Linked DNA regions of Homo sapiens. The protein of the gene in region 1 purifies or fractionates together with the protein of each later gene. This does not show direct contact. Each region holds a gene or a part of one and is shown on either strand. Other genes may lie near its edges. The genes, in order: RGMA, BDP1 and CLK4.

Region 1 (3,752 bases):
GTCCTGGTTCCTGCCCTCATGATGCTTATGGTACGGTGGGAGAGGCCAACATGTAGGGAAAGGTCACTCTAATGAGCGCCTAATTACCGAGTGAGCTCAGTGTTAGGAAGGAAAGGCACGGATGTGAGGACTCCCTAGAGGGTGGGGAAGATGTTGGAGCTGAGCTATGAAAGATGAAGAAATTGGTTATTCACTGAATGTCAGGGCACAGAATGTCAGGGCAGGAAGACCACACACACACACACACACACACACACACACACACACACACACACCCTACTATTCATAGATGAGGAAACTGAGGCCCAGCAGAGCTAGATGACTTGCCGAAGGTCAGAGCTAATTCTAGAAACCCATCCCCAATCCCTTCCTGCTAAACCACTTAATTTTATTTATATCCCAGCTATAGATTATACAAATACACTTGACAAATAAAACGGAGAATATTGAGTTAAAACCACATCTCTGAAGACCACACGCATAAATAACGATCGTGTTTTAATGCGGACGATACCTTTTCATTTTGCAAATCCAGAGTTCTCATCATATCAAAATTCAAGACAGTTTGTTCTGTAAGAAGGGGAAGGTCATAACCCTGTCTAGAATGTACTGGCAAATCTCTCTAACCGTGCAGTGCTAATTTGGGCCTGAGCTGTGTAACCAGACCGACTTCACGCTCCAGCTGGGGTTTCAGATCCACACATGGCGATTGGGTGGCTCTTTGCTGTTTCACAGCAAGGGTCCTTCCCTGGGCTCCCGGAGCCTCTGGGGATTTACTGCTCCCGACGTGGCCGTGTTCAAGCCACTGTGTGCATGCGCTTAATGTTGAAAACATTCTTTTGAAAAGCCCAGGAGATTCCACTCGCAATCTGTGCGTGTGCATGTAAAAGCGCAGAGACTGGAAAGAACCGCGGCAGAGCACACCCTGACCGAAGGTTACCGCGGGGGAGCCGCGGCCGTGGGAGAGCCGCGGCCGTGGGAGGGAGTGCGATACGGTCTTTTCACTCTAGACACTCCTGAGTTATGTACAATTCTACGCAAGAATGTATGCGTGTGTTAGCATGTAATACATATGTATTAGTTTTTTCAGGAAGATTCTTAAACAACAACAAAATCTCTATAGAACAAAGGTGCGTCTCCGCAGAGCGCAACAGCATTTGTCTTGGATGTAACCGCCTTCTCCAGAAATCTCAGAGGAACTCCCCTCGACCACCGCCTAACTGAAGGACACCGTGCGCTCCACCGCAACCCTGCGGGCGATTCGGAAAGTTGGAGGCGCCCCGGGGAGTCGCCGCACTTGCCGCCCGCGCCCCCTAACCTGAGCATTCAAGGAGTCTTGACTTGGCCGCTGGCGCACTCCGCACCCACCCAGCCGGTGCTGATGCGGGAGGGTGGGGCCGCGGCGGGGCGGGGCAACGCGAGCCCGCACCCCGCTCCTCCCCGCCCCTCCCTGCCGGCCCCGCCCGCGCGCGCCCCCCGCCCGCGGCCCGGGCGCCCGGCCCGCCCCCTCCCCTCGGCGCGCAAACGAACCTCGCGACGCCGCGCTCGGCGGCGGGCGGGGGCCGGGCGAGGGAGGGGGCTGGTCCCGGCCGCCCCACTCTGCAGTTGTCTCCCGAGCGCTGGCTGCGCCGCCCGAGCCGCTGGGCCGGGGAAGCACTGGCCGTTCGCTCCCGGGCCGGCTCCGCCAGGCGCTCGCAGGCATGCAGCCCGGGAGCAGGAGGCGCTCCCCGGGCCGCTGCTGAGCCGGCCGGGGCGGCGGGGACCAGCGCCAGCGGAGCCCCTCCCACCTTGCCCCGGGGCAGACGAGCGGCGCCCCGACACCCCCTCTTCTCCCGCAGCCCCGCCAGCGCCACCCCCCGCGGGCCGCAGGGGCTCATGCAGCCGCCAAGGTAAGCGCGGGTCGGGAGCCGGGCAGACCCGGCTCTGACATCTCCGAGGCGCCGCCGACACATGCCGGGGCCACGGCGCTGCTTTGGTCTTCCTTAGCCCCGCGTCTCATCTTGCTCCCATCTTGCCCACATTTGGAGCTTTGCTGCGCCTCTATCGCTTTAGCTGTTGGCAGCAGGAAAGTTTTTGTGGTTTGGTGTTTGTTCTTTTTTCCTAAAATACTCTCCCCCGGGCAGCCGCCAGCGCGCGTGGTTGGGCAGACCCGGCACACGTCCCTTACACCGTGTGCGGGCTGGGAGCTCCTTCCCTCAGCCCGGCTCGCGGAGCCCCGGACGGAGCCGGCCACCCGACTGTCCCGCCGTGAACCCCCATTGGCCCGCGCCGCCCGGGCCCCCGCCTCCCGCTCGACGCCCGGCTGCGGAGCTGCCTGGCCATCTCCTGCCCTCGGGGATGTCGGCGCAGTGCACCGCGTGGGCTCGCGTCCCGGCGGCCCTTTGCCTCGGCGCGCCGGCGTACGGGAAGGTGCGGACCTTGGATTGAGGGCCGAGGATGCCCATTGCCAAGCCGCCCCGGCTTTCCTAAGTGGACGGGAGGGCACGGCGACGATTCAGCGCCGGCTCGCGCCGCAGCTCAACCCAGGGTACAAGCCCGGGCATGGGGGACAGGTGTATTCAATGGGAGGGCGGGTGTGGGGGACGCTCGGGTGCAATTCGGGATTGCGTCTTATTAATGTAATTGTATTAGACTTGCTCGGAGGTAGAATCAGTTCTCCCAAATTGAGATTTCTAATGGGAGCCTGTGAGCTGCTATTATGTGGTGTGGTTTTGGGAGGTGTTGGGTTGTATTTATTTTATAAATTGGGTGTCTCGCGGGCGGAGTAGGGGAAGTAGCGCCATCTAGCGGAAGTGGTGAGCTGTGCATTCCTCTTAGGCTGCGAAGTTGTTGGGTGTTCTCAAAGTAGTCTCCCGCACAAGGTGGAGAGGCGGGAACCAGCCCTCGCCTCCAGGAAGGAGGCTACAGAAGCTCTCTGAGTATCGACGGTACCAGGGAGAACCCCGACCTCCCATGCTCAGCACATTGAGCTCAGGGGACGAAATTGCGGGTCGTGTTGAGTGGCATGCTGTCACCTAAAGGAGCTCCATCACCTTCTCTGTTTGGTTTTAGACTCTTCCAGCAAAAACGTAATATAAAATGTTAACTGCTGTAAGAAGATGCCCCTTCCGCAGGTATCTGGTGCAGAGATCTTGAAAACCAATGCACAAACCTCTGTCTTCTCCTGTGCATCACAAACGGGTGATTTCTTGGGTGGATTTTGAGCCATGACCCCTAGAAAAGAGAGTAACTGTGCTCCGAAGGGCAACAGGAGGAGAACTGGGAGAGGGCCTCCTGCCCATTTGTGCAGGAACAGAATAGTGTACCCAAACTGGGTTTTGTGGTTTTTTTTTTTTTTTTTTTTGCACATACAAAGAAGGGGTTTCTTGCTGTTACCACAGCAAGTGACAAGCAAGCCCCCTTTACAGGGACATGATCTCCAATTAACAACTGGGGCAGACGTGGCTGGATGGCAAGTTCTGCAGACAAAGGCTCTGGGTGGGGCACCCACACATCCAGGCGGGCTCCACGTTCTCTGTGGCTGGTTTTTGCTGCCACCTTCCAGGCCAGATAATATATTAGCAGTGAGCTGGGCTCACCCGGTTCTGAAGGGCACCCTGGCCCCTTGTAGAGCAGTGTAGTGGTCTACTGTAGTACCCCCTTGAGACTCTCTGGGCTGTGCTGGTAGTGAAAGAGGTCTTAGCCTCCTTTTTTCAAGTACCCTGCTTCCATTATTTCCCTCCCAGGTGTCAGACAGTTGCTTACATTCTCCA
Region 2 (3,652 bases), on another chromosome or scaffold:
AAGAATCCAGTAGATCTTCCTCTACTGTTTCACAGAGAAGAAAGCGAATATCAAGTACTTCTAGCCTGGTTAAGTCTAGTGTCAGTGTTCCTTCAGAATCTCATCCCTTATCTACAATTAATCAAGAGGCTCCACAGCCAACTGCCACTTCAACAAAAGAGAAACAGCCATGCTCAGACAGATACCGAATATACAAAGCCCAGAAACTGAGGGAAATGTTAAAAGAAGAATTGAGAAAAGAGAAGGTAAGGGAGGAGAATCAGGATTTTGATGTTGCCTTCTATTTATGTTAGTAAGGAATCATTGGGAAGAAAAGCATTTGTAGCATTTTGATGGGGGAACAAAACCACATAACATCCCTTAGTCAATAGAACATCCCTTCTTGTTAATGGATTGATTGATACACCGTGGACTTAAATTACATTTTTCACTGATAGTAATTTTTACATTATTTATTTATGTTTTCACTGTTTTTGGTGAAGACCACAAATAAGTTTCATACGCATACACATAGATGCACATACACAAACATATTTATAAAATAAACCTTCAGTCTGATTTTTCACATAAAGATGTCCAAGTGATAAGTGATATATTTATTTGAATTAAGACAAGTATAGGCCGGGCGTGGTGGCTCATGCCTGTAATCCCAGCACTTTGGGAGGACTAGGGGGGCAGATCACTTGAGGTCAGGAGTTCAAGACCAGCCTGGCCAACATGGCAAAACCCTGTCTCTACTAAAAATACAAAAATTAGCTGGGCCTGGTGACGTGCATCTGTAATCCCAACTACTGGGGAGGCTGAGGCATGAGAATTGCTTGAACCTGGGAGGTGGAAGTTGCAGTGAGCCGAGATTGTGCCTCTGCATTCCAGCCTGGGTGATAGAGTGAAACTGTCTCCAAAAAAAAGACGAATATAGTTGAGCAGAATGAATTGGTAATGTTTTCTAAATTGACTATGGAAAATTACAAGTGGGAAAAATTTGTGTTATGCATATATTAGAGTCCATGTTCTTTTTAATCTTGAGGATTGATTTCTTTTCTAGAAGGGCAGGTAACAGCAGTAGAGCATGCTGGCCCTGGAGTTAAATACTTAGGGATTGAATCTCAGCTTCATTTCTTTACTAGCTTTGTGACCTTGGGTAATTTAATTAATCTATTTCCTCATCTGTAAAATAGACCAATAATAGTTCAGGTTGAGCATCCCTGAAATTGAAAATGCTCCAAAGTCTAAAATGTTTTGAGTGCCAAAGTGATGCTCCAGGGAAATGCTCATTGGAGCATATTGGATTTCAAATTTTCAGGTTAGAGATGCTCAGCCAGCATGTATTCTGCAAGTATTCAAAAATGTGAAAAAATCCAAAATGTGAATCATTTCTGGTCTCAAGTATTTCAGATAAGAGATGCTCAACCTCTATCTAGCTCATTAGAGGGTTGTGAAGATTAAATGAGTCAATACATGTAAAACACACTTAAACTGGTGTCTTGGGCCTTGTGCAGTGGCTCACGCCTGTAATCCCAGCACTTTGGGAGGCCGAGGTGGGCGGATCACCTGAGGTCAGGAGTTCGAGACCAGCCTGGCCAACATGGTGAAACCCCGTCTCTACTAAAAATACAAACATTATCTGGTTGTGGTGGTGCACGCCTGTAATCCCAGCTACTCAGGAGGCTGAGACAGGAGAATCGCTTGAACCTGGGAGGCAGAGGTTGCGGTGAGCCAAAATCGTGCCATTGCACTCCAGCATGAGTGACAGAGCGAGACTCCGTCTCAAAAAAAACCAACCAAACAAAAAAACTAGTGTCATGAAAATAGTAAGTGTCCAACCAGTGTCAGCTTCTGTTATGAATTATAAAATGCCTCTTAGTTTTTTTTAAATTAAGGGAAGGCATTTTGCTTGGTGCTTTATATCTGTTATCTTATGTAATTATATCAACTATGTGAAGTAGATATCACTGTTTCACACAGGAGAAAACAAGCTTTCAATTTATGTCTTCTAAAATGTAAGCCTCACAACAATTGCTTGAACCTGGAAGGCGGAGGTTGCAGTGAGCTGAAATTGTGCTACTGCATTCCAGCCTGGGCGACAGATCAAAGCCTCTAAAAATGTTTTATGGGTTGGGAATTGGGGGTGGGGGGATTAAAAAAAAGTTCTGTATTTTACAGAAACTGCTTATTTGCTTATTTAATTTATTTTGGGGAATTAAAGATTAAACATTTGCTTCAAGAATTTTACAAAATACACAGAATTTCAAGTCACTACAGGGTAAAAAAAAAGCTGTGTAAGCATAAATTCTCAGTGAGCTATTAAGATGTTTAGTTAGAAGGCATCAGTAAGCATTTTATACATTGAGCTTTATTAGTTTTATTCTTTGGTTATTTATTTAGTTTTGAGACAAGGTCTCACTGTCACCCAGGATGGAGTGCGCTAGTATAATTGCAGTTCACTGCAGCCTCAACCTCCCAGGCTCAAGTGATCCTCCCACCTCAGCCTCCCAAGTAGCTGTGGCTATAGGCATATGCCACCACATCCAGCTAATTTTTTTGTATTTTTTTGTAGAGATAGGGTCTCATTTATGTTGCCCAGGCTGGTAACTCCTGAGCTCAAGCGATCCTCCTGCCTCAGCCTCCCAAAGTGCTGGGATTAGAGAAATAAGCCACTGTGCCTGGCCACATTGAGCTTTTATCTAGTCCTAGTCACTTTAATTGTTAAAATCTAAATACTGCCTGGGTGTGTGGTTCACTCCAGTGCTTTAGGAGTGTGAGGCAGGAGGATCACTTGAGCCCAGGAATTTGAGAGCAGCCTTGGCAACGTAGGGAGACTCCATCTCTACCAAAAAAAAAAAAACCCCACAAAATTAGCCAGGTGTTAGGCAAGCATCTGTAGTCCCAGCTACTTGGGAGGCTGAGGTGGGAGGACTGCTTGAGCTCAGGAGTTCAAGGCTGCAGTGAGCTATGATTGCGCCACTGCACTTTAGCCTGGATGACAGAGCAAAACCCCATCTCAAAAGTAGATAAATAAAAACTAAAAGCTATTGAGGGTAATGTGCTACAACTTTTTAATATTCCATCTACAAAATTACATAATTGGGGTGAGAATAATATTAAAGCACTTACAGTGAACGCAACAGTGGACTGTATATTTGCATATAGTACATCTGAAATTCTTTAATATTTATAAAAGTGGATCTGTGTGTTTATGTATACAGAAACAATGGAAAAACAAATATGCTATAAATGAAAGTCAGAGGCCACCAGATCGTTCAAAAATGACTATGAGAGACTTCATATATTATCTACCAGATAATAATCCAATGACGTAAGTAAAATTTATTTCTGCTTTACTATCTCTTTTTTTTTTTTTTTTTTTTTGGAGGTGGAGTCTCGCTCTGTCACCCGGGCTGGAGTGCAGTGGTGCAATCTTGGCTCACTGCAACCTCTGCCTCCCAGGTTCAAGCGATTCTCCTGCCTCAGATTCGCGGGTAGCTGGGATTACAGATGCTCGCCACCACACCCGGCTAATTTTTGTATTTTTAGTAGAGACTGGGTTTCGCCATGTTGGCTTGCCTGGTTTTAAACTCCTTACCTCGGGTGATCCACCCGCTTCGGCTTTCCAAAGTGCTGAGATTACAGGCGTGAGCCACTGCACCTGGCC
Region 3 (3,652 bases), on another chromosome or scaffold:
GAGGTGCCCCACGAACAGGGAATTCATCATTGTGCAACAGCTGCCTAAGTGACTCTTAGCCCATCATAGCTGCATGCCCCCTGCACTGCTCTAACTTCAAATCAACCTCAACAGTACTAGCTGGGATCTCCAGCCCCTCTTCCCCAAACAAAACAACACAACACCTCGATCATACCATGACCCTATTTAAAGTTCTTCAATGGTTGCATCACCTAAAGCTTTCAAGAATTTAAATTTCAGGCTGGGTGCGGTGGCTCACACCTGTAATCCCAGCACTTTGGGAGGCCAAGGAGGGTAGATCACTTGAGGTCAGGAGTTCGAGACCAGCCTGGTCAACACAGCAAAACCCTCTACTAAAAATACAAAAAATTAGTGGGGTGTAGTGGCTCGTGCCTGTAATCCCAGCTACTTGGGAGGCTGAGACATGAGAATCACTTGAACCCGGGAGGCAGAGGTTGCAGTGAGCTGACGTTGCGCCACTGCACTCCAGCCTGGGTGACACAGTGAGACTCCATCTCAGGGAAAAAAAAAAAAAAATTAAGATTTCAGATGTAAGTACAACTTAAGGACAGAGTGGAAAAGAAAGTAGAGTTTCCTACTTTTTGTTTTACCAATTAAGGACTTTTTATTTTTAAAAGCAAACTACCAACAACTATGACTATCATTACATAAAAGAGACATTAAAAAAAAAAAAAGCAGGAGGGATAATCTCTAAATAAGGGTCAGAATGGCAAACCTAGACAACCATTTTCATTTTGGACCAGTCTACTTTTGGAATCCACTGACTTCTAGGATCAAACCAATACCTTGCGAAGTCTTTTATGAATTGATCCTTGCCTATTGTTATAATTTTCCCATTTATACAAGACACTCTGACAACGCTATTCTTCCCTGAGTAGAATATGTTCCTTTACTCCTCTGTGCATTTACAGATACTATTTCTTCTTCCTTATATGCCCATTGCACTCCAGTTTTCTAACTCCTCCTCCTCTTCCTATGTTCTCAGTGACGCCTTCTCTAAAGTAATTATTAACCTTTCCTGGGTTCTCCCTACCTACACTTTGTCTTTTTTTTTTTTTTTTTTTTTTGCAACAGAGTCTCACCCTGTTGTCCAGGCTGGAGTGCAGTGGCATGATCTCGCTCACTGCAAGCTCCGCCTCCCAGGTTCACGCCATTCTCCTGCCTCAGCCTCCCGAGTAGCTGGGACTACAGGCGCCCGCCACCACGCCCAGCTAATTTTTTATACTTTTAGTAGAGACAGGGTTTCACCATGTTAGCCAGGATGGTCTCGATCTCCTGACCTCATGATCCACCCACCTCAGCCTCCCAAAGTGCTGGGATTACAGGTGTGAGCTACCCCGCCTGGCCCTCCCTACCTACACTTTCTACGTTGTTCCATCACAGCAAATGCTACACTATACTGCGATAACTTTCCAATGTCTTTTGCATGACTTGAGAAAGATGTTGTCTCTTCACCTTTATGTACTTATACTTAGAAATGCCTAAGACATTATAGATGCTTAATACTTAAGAGTAAAATACAATCCCTTGTTGTTTCTGAATTCTTTTATAAAAAGGAATAAGTGACTCGTTCATGGCCATATTGATAGTCAACATAACTATAACTGAAAACTGGCCACATTAACACTACTGCAAATTTATGAAGAAGCTCTACAATTTAAAAAAGGAGACAGTATGAACCATATATGAACCATGTGTTACAAACACTAATCACATGCAAAATTAACTATGATCACTCACTCATAGTAATATTTCATTCAACTGTGGTTTTAAAGAATGACCATTTTGCCTAAGTTTTAATCTCAAGAATAATGATGTATGGCAATTTTCCAATATGGAAGTCAAAACTTTAGCATACCTTTAACGTTTACAATTTGTTATGAATTATTAAATGGAATTTACTAGCCACGTACCTGAAAGACTGTGAAACCAAGGTAATATTCAATAAGAATGCAACCTATGCTCCAAACATCACAAGGCTGAGACCAACCTAAAGCTATTTTAAAACAAATAGAAACATTTTACTATGCAAAAACTTTTAATTGACAGTACATTAAATCCTTCCCTATATGAGTGCTCCCTTTACAGAACCCATTTGGGAGAATAAGACACCAAATTCAGGGTTTATAGTTCTAGTTTTACAGCAAATGCTATTCAACACACTCCATAGTCCATATGCTCACATCAAGACACAGTATTCTAACTAGGGAGGGGTGCATGTTATGTAAAATAAAAGGGGGCTACCATTTTCCAAGTATACAACCAATTCGTGCAAATATTCCATAGTCTCTGAACTGTTTATATAATGGGAGAGCACTGCTGTTAAAACCATTATTATGCTCAGTTCATGGTTAGTCCAAGAATTTTTATATTTTATTAGCACAAATACAGGTTTATAATTATCCTCAGAATGAAATTACTAATGCCTTATCAATTATCATCAGCTTGATGCATGAGTTTACTTCTTCCGTTAAGAGAAATATTACCGTTTTGCACAAATTGTATAAAAGGTATAATGGGAATTTTAAGCAGTTTCACCTATAAGCAGAAATTACAGACACATTGGAGCTCAGAGAGGGATCTATACATAAACATCGGCGCTGTCTATACATGATTTTATATACTTTCTCCTTCAGAATTCTCAATGACAGTATTATTCAGATCAGAATAAAACATCTAGCCTTCTTAAATCTATACTGACTGGGAAGGAGAAAGAACCAACCACATAGATATTTTAATATTTCAAAGATCAAATATTTAGTTAAAAAATGTATAAATAAAATCTACATTCAAAGACATTTCAATTACTTTCATTATCACTGAAGTTAAAGATAAAAGAAGAAATATATTCAAGTCAATATATAATGACTTAAGTCATTTTTGTTAACCATCCGCTCCAGTGTCTGTCATTTGAACAAATGGATAATAATAGAGCATGGGCCAGGCGCGGTGGCTCATGCCTGTAATCCCAGCACTTTGGGAGGCCGAGGCGGGTGGATCACCAGGTTGGCAGTTCGAGACCAGTCTGACCAACATGGTGAAACCCCGTCTCTACTAAAAATACAAAAAAATTAGCTGGGCGTGGTGGCAGACGCCTGTAATCCCAGTGACTTGGGAGGCTGAGGCAGGAGAATGGCTTGAAACCGGAAGGCAGAGGTTGCAGTAAGCTGAGATTGCGCCACTGCACTCTAGCCTGGGCAATAAAAGCAAAACTCCATCTCAAAAAAATAAATAAACAAATAACAAAAATAAAAAATAATAAAAATTTTAAAATATATATATATATATATATATAAATTAGTTGGGTGTGGTGGTGTGCACTTGTAATCCCAGCTACTCAGGAGGCTGAGGCAGGAGAATCGCTTGAACCCGGGAGGCAGAGGTTGCAGTGAGCTGAGATTGCACCACTGCACTCCAGGCCAGGCAACAGAGTGAGACTCTGTCTCAAAAAATAAATAAATAAATAATGGAGCATGGTTTCTACCTATTAACACATACAAAATCCGTAAATGCTAGAGCTTGGACCTCATAAAAGTTTTATTTTTCAACCAGGCACGGTGGCTCACACCTGTAATCCCAGCACTTTGGGAGGCCAAGGCAGGTGAATCACAAGGTCAGGAGTTGGAGACCA

What was found.
Region 2: the proteins of RGMA (region 1) and BDP1 purify together in Homo sapiens (affinity purification with mass spectrometry; one large-scale study listed by BioGRID and IntAct). This does not show direct contact.
Region 3: the proteins of RGMA (region 1) and CLK4 purify together in Homo sapiens (affinity purification with mass spectrometry; one large-scale study listed by BioGRID and IntAct). This does not show direct contact.

What each region holds. Positions count from the first base shown.
Region 1 is NC_000015.10:93,087,056-93,090,807, reverse strand, and holds the start of RGMA (repulsive guidance molecule A isoform 3 precursor), read left to right. Parts: upstream 1-1,596; 5' UTR 1,597-1,875; coding exon 1,876-1,889; intron 1,890-2,284; exon of another isoform or gene 2,285-2,527; intron 2,528-3,752.
Region 2 is NC_000005.10:71,458,611-71,462,262, forward strand, and holds part of BDP1 (transcription factor TFIIIB component B'' homolog), read left to right. Parts: coding exon 1-245; intron 246-3,206; coding exon 3,207-3,316; intron 3,317-3,652. UniProt on the Homo sapiens protein: General activator of RNA polymerase III transcription. Requires for transcription from all three types of polymerase III promoters. Requires for transcription of genes with internal promoter elements and with promoter elements upstream of the initiation site.
Region 3 is NC_000005.10:178,606,442-178,610,093, forward strand, and holds part of CLK4 (dual specificity protein kinase CLK4), read right to left. Parts: intron 2,018-3,652; coding exon 1,935-2,017; intron 1-1,934. UniProt on the Homo sapiens protein: Dual specificity kinase acting on both serine/threonine and tyrosine-containing substrates.